Regions from separate parts of the Homo sapiens genome. Here region 1 is linked to region 2. The links come from fine-mapping of genetic effects on plasma protein levels. Region 2 holds a variant in brackets. A gene starts in the other region. All regions are shown on their reverse strands.

Region 1 (2,941 bases), not on the chromosome of region 2:
TTGGAGGAATGACAGGGAGGGCAGGCCTGAAGGGGGCTTTCCCCAACTCCAATCCCTAAGCCCTCTGTCCCAGACTCGTCACTACCCAGCTAGGGCCTAGGCTCGAAGCAGGCACAACTGGATGGCTGGGGGAGAAGATGGAGGGAGGAAGGTCGATGCCCCAGGACGGACCACAGGAAAGAGGCGTTCACAGGAGACTCGCTCTCTGTGCTTCCAAGGCCGGGAGCAGCCGCCTTCCCGCCTAAATCCTCAAGATGGAAGTTGCTCCCTCTAGCTTTCCCAATAGCTAAGGCTGCTGGTTTTGTTAGTGACCCCTCCCTTCTCGTCCAAGTCGATTTCTAGCATTTACTGGATTCCAGAGTCTTGTTATTTAAGAATGCATCTTAAACGGTACTATCAAATTCATGTTACGTGCAGCCCAGATTGTTTTGGGCAGCACGAAAAGTTTCTGAGGCGCTGCGTGTACCCCACCCCAGGACACCGTGTGTGCGCGCCGAGCTGAGTGCGAGGAACGTGGCGCGAGGGCCGGGGGATGCCGGGCTGCGTGGGTGTGAGCCCTCGCGCGACCGCGACCCCGCGCCTCTCCCGCTCTCGCCGGAACGTGACCGCAGCCGCACCTCTCCTCCAGCCCTTTCCCAGCCAGACGCTTCCTTTTAGGTCCTTCTGGGCGTTTATTGTAAATTCTGCGACTAAAACACGCCGGTGAGCCCGGCCCACCGACAGATGGATCAATCGCCCCCTTCCCGGCTAGGGGAGGAGGAACCCCCCAACCCCGGAGCCTAGGGAGCCGGGAGCTGCCTCGGGACGAGCTCCTCGGAGCCCAGCCGGCTGCGGAGCCCCGGCCCGGGTCGGTCTCGGGGCCCTCCTGCCGGGGTGGGGTGCGAGCCCCTGCCCGATTCCTCTGGGGCGGTTCAGGCAGGTTTGCCGGCCTCCGAGGAGGTGGTCAGGGCGCCCTGGCCCAGCAGGCTTCTTCCCGAGCCGGGGGGAGGGGAGACCGGCTGGGGAAGGGGCATCTCGAAGGGGTGGAGGCCGGGGCGGGCGGGAGGCAAGCGCGCCGCGGGCGTGAGGGCAAAGTTCCCGAGGTCCGCGCGGAGAGCACACGTGTATGTGCGCGCGGGGCTAGGCCGGGGCCGGCAGGATGCGTTGGGTTCGGGGGCGCGCGGGGCCGGCGCCGAAGGGGATAATTCCTTTCCCTGGCACCATCGGGGAGACGCTTTGTCGGCCTCGGCTCCTGGGCGCAGGGACGCCTTAGCCCACGGAGGGTGGAGCCCCCCTCAGACCCGGGCCACCGGCTGGGGTTTTTCTAACGCCCTGCCCCCCGAGCCCCCGGATGGCTCGGGCCCCACGGACTCCGCGCCCTCCAGCCTCAGCTCAGCTCCCCAGGCTTCCCAGACCCAGCGGCGCAGGGGGCGGGGGCAGGGGCAGTGGGGGTTGGAGGGCGCAGCCGGTCCCCAGGGTGGGGAGAGCTGCGGGGGGAGGAGGAGGAGGGTGCCGACGCTTGAGTGGGTTCGAGCCCGAGCCGTAGCCGGGGGAGCCAGTCAGTTTCCGGCCAAGGCAGCAGGTCAGTCCCAGGAAGGGCGGGCGATTGAGCCGAGGGAGCCGGCGGCTGGGCTCTCCTCTCGGCCCGCGATCCCCGGCGCCGCCGCCGCCGCCACCGCCACCGCCACCGCCTTCGCCTTGTCGCCGCCGCCGCTGCAGAGCATCGTAGCTCCGCCGCGCTCCCGCGCCCCGCGCCCCGCGCCGCCAGCCGCCTGGGAGCCCGAGCGCCGAGCCCGGGGCGGAGGAGAGGGGCGCTGGCGCGAGAGCCCGGGCGAGGGAGCCGCGAAGGGAGAAGGGGGCGGGCGGAGGGAGGAGCAGGGAGAGTGGGAGAAGGGGGAGGGAGAGAGGAGAGCGAGGGAGAGCTGGAGAGAGCGAGAGCAAAGAGCGAGCGAGGGAGAGGAGAGAGAGAGAGAGGAGAGAGAAAGACACACGCACGCAGAGACACACGGTCACTGGAATTCCATTAGAAAAAAGTGAGCCGAGCAAGGGTTAGCGGGAGAAGATTTTTTTGAATCTTGTCTTCGTCTTGGTGCGAAAGAAGCGACTCCAGTCTCTCGTCCTCGAAGCTCCGACTGGATTGTTCTTGGGCGCTGACACCCGTCTGTGGATTTCTTTTCTATTTGCATTTTATTCCGACCCCCTCCCTCGCCGCTTCCTTCCAGCCCTTCACTCGCAAATCGCCTCTCTCCCCACCTCCCCAGGCCCCTCCTGGGAAGCGCAGGGGAATTGGACCCGCGGGGACTCACGCCTTCCCGGACGATTGGAGGGGAGGGCTGACCCCAGGACTGGGCTGTTGGCTTAGAAAGCCGATACACAGATACGCGTATATTTGATTGTAGCGGGCAAGGGGGGCGTCGAGAGGCAGCAGCCCATCGCCCGCCTCTCACCCCACCCCCTCCAGCCAGAGGCGAGAATCGCAGGACTCGGGATCTTCATCGGGTGGACTAGCTGGGATCTCCGCATTGGATTTGGGGCTGATTACCACTGCTTGCCTATTATTATTGTTGTTGTTACTACTATTATTTTTTTTTACCCAAGGGAGAAAGACAAAAAAACGGTGGGATTTATTTAACATGATCTTGGCAAACGTCTTCTGCCTCTTCTTCTTTCTAGGTGAGTACCTGCGGGCGGCGAGCTCGAGGGGGAGGCGAGAAGCCGGGGAGGCGGGGGGCGAGCGGAGCGCCGGTGGGGGGCTGGCGGGAGGTCGGCGGGGAGAGCGCGCCGCGGAGCTAGCCGGGCCCGGTGCTGGCGAACCGAGCGGGGCCGGGCGGCAGGGACGCGGACGAGGGACCGGAGCCGCGGCTGGCTGGCGACGCAGGGGGATCGGGAGGGAGACTCAACATCCGAACCAGCCCCGCAGACACTGTGCACGCACACACACACCCGCGCTCGCTCACACGCC
Region 2 (2,500 bases):
ATAACCCAAATAAATGAAAACTGTTTGTAGTCCTCAAAATATTGAAGTTGCAAAGGGGTTCTGAGAACAAAATGTGTGTAAACCACTGGCTCAGAGACTGAGTCTAAGCTGGTCAAATTAGATTATTTCATAGCATGGAGGAAAAGAACAGATGAGACAAAGAGAGCTTATTAGCAAAATGCTGAAACTAAGTTTGAGATCCTGGATAGTCACACATTCATTCATTCAAACATTTATGAAGTCTTACTATGTGCCAGGCCCTAGGCCAAGTGCTGAGGGTTTTGAAATACCTGAGACAAGGCTGGGCAAGATGGCTCACACCTGTGGCTCAGAATTTTGGGAGGCCGAGGCAGGCAGATCACCTGAGGTCAGGAGTTCGAGACCAGCTTGACCAACATGGAGAAACCCCATCTCTACTAAAAATACAAAATTAGCCAGGCGTGGTGGCGCATGCCGGTAATCCTAGCTACTCCGGAGGCTGAGGCAGGAGAATTGCTTGAACCTGGGAGGCAGAGTTTGCAATGAGCTGAGATCGTGCCATTGCACACCAGCCTGGGCAACAAAAGCAAGACTCCGTCTCAAAAAAAACAAAAGAAATACCCGAGACACATCTTCTGCCTTCAAGGAGTAAGGAAGGCTGACATGTAAACAAACAGTGACATAGAATGTGATGAGCGCTACAGTGGAGGGTGCACTGGGACCATGGTAAGAAGTGGGAGACAAAGTGGTCAGGGAGAGCTGGGAAATCTTGAAGGTCCCAGAGACAGGTACCATTCGTGTCTGGGGAAGCCCAAAGTCATCGCCATTTGCTTGCCTGCTTATTTTAACAGTGTTAAAACTGTTTTTAACTGTTTTTAAGTCATTGCCAGGGAGGCCTAAAGTCATTGCCATTTGCTTGCTTGCCTGTTAGTTTTAATAGTGCTGGCTGTCAGCCTGGAGGAGGCAGGGGATGGAGGAGGTAGCGCCAGCCAACTAAGGCCTCAGGCTATGAATATGCAAGAGTTTTGCCATAGTCAGAGTCTCAAGGGGCAAGTAAGAGGAAAAAGG[C/T]GTAAACCAGCATTTCTTCTCATTCTATTACAACATAATTCTACCCCCTTTCCCCTACAAAGAAAATCAGACTGGTAATATATTTATTAAATTTTTACCTAATACATAGTCCTTGTTTTTTAAAAGTCAAATAACATAGAGAATGTGAAAATCCCTCTTCATTCTCAGCAAACTAACACAGGAACAGAAAACCAAACATCGCATGCTCTCACTCATAAGTGGAAGTTGAACAACGAGAATACATGGACACAGGGAGGGGAACAACACACACCCAGGCCTGTCACGGGGTAGGGGGCAAGGGGAGGGAGAGGATTAGGACAAATATCTAATGCGTGCAGGTCTTAAAACCTAGATGATGAGTCGATAGGTGCAGCAAACCACCATGGCACATGTATACCTATGTGACAAACCTGGGCTTAAAACCTAGATGACGGGTTGATAGGTGCAGCAAACCACCGTGGCACATGTATACCTATGTAACAAACCTGCACGTTCTGCACATGTACCCCAGAACTTAAAGTAAAATAAAATAAAACAAAATAAAAAATCCCTCTCAGTAATCACTGTTCCTAGTTTGGTATATAATCATTTCAACTGTTTTCTCTTCCCTTCCCTTCCCTTCCCTTCCCTTCCCTTCCCTTCCCTTCCCTTCCCTTCCCTTCCCTTCCCTTCCCTTCCCTTCCCTTCCCTTCCCTTCCCTTCCCTTCCCTTCCTTCCTTCCTTCCTTCCTTCCTTCCTTCCTTCCTTCCTTCCTTCCTTCTTTCTTTCTTTCTTTCTTTTCTGCCTTAGCCTCTGGAGTAGCTGAGACTACAGGCTCACACCAACACGCCTGGCTAATTTTTGTATTTTTAGTAGAGATGGGGTTTCACCATGTTGGCCAGGCTGGTCTTGAACTCCTGACCTTGGGTGATCCCCACCCACCTCAGCCTCCCAAAGTGCTGGGATTACAGGCTAGCCAGCGCACCCGGCCCATTTCAATTGTTTTCTAGACATATATAAATATACATGAATTTTAGATAAAGAAGCTTCTGTTGGTTTACACTAGAAGGATGTGTAAAGTCAACAGCAATGCCGTCTGTGAGGTGGAACGTCCGCTGATTGTGATAAATGTAGTATAGGAGGCTCCCCTAAAGTGCTGATGGCTAATGGCAATAAAGTCAGTGAAGGAGGATCTCTGGATGCACTTTGTGAAAGATAAATCACACTGCAGAGAAGCCCAGGATCAGAAACAGTGCTTCTTGCTGGATACTTCTCGGTCCTGGACTGGCTGTCCCCGTGCCTGCTTCCTTCTCTCTCTTCTCTCTCCCCAGGCACTGGTCTGTTTTGCTTTCTTCTCGCCTACCTCTGCCCACAGCTTTTGACTCCTCTTCTTTTCTCCCTGGTCCTTTGTCTCACAGGCTTTTCCATGTCTTCCTGTTCTGGGTACAAGCCTATGGCTTCTTGAGATTTTTTT

Direction of the effects. Positions count from the first base shown, and alleles are read on the strand shown. Strength reflects both the effect of a copy and how common the allele is.
In carriers of allele C in region 2, the plasma level of the protein whose gene starts at base 1,897 in region 1 tends to be higher than with T alone (weak association).

Evidence for each region. PIP is the chance, under the fine-mapping model, that this variant and not a neighbour inherited with it causes the effect. The UK Biobank Pharma Proteomics Project read protein levels with antibody pairs (Olink). The fine-mapping took linkage between variants from a reference panel, not from the people measured, so its PIPs are less certain.
Region 1: it holds the start of GFRA2, and the variant in region 2 is fine-mapped to the plasma level of the GFRA2 protein (UK Biobank, PIP above 0.99).

What each region holds. Positions count from the first base shown.
Region 1 is chr8:21,787,831-21,790,771 of GRCh38, reverse strand. It overlaps GFRA2 (GDNF family receptor alpha 2), which reads left to right and starts at 1,897. Exons shown (of 9, transcript NM_001495.5): 1 at 1,897-2,652. The coding sequence starts at 2,613.
Region 2 is chr10:100,314,270-100,316,769 of GRCh38, reverse strand. All of the region lies in intron 2 of PKD2L1 (polycystin 2 like 1, transient receptor potential cation channel), which reads left to right. Among named protein-coding and RNA genes, the nearest start is that of PKD2L1, 15 kb to the left of the region's middle. The variant C/T (reference allele first, on the strand shown) is at 1,048.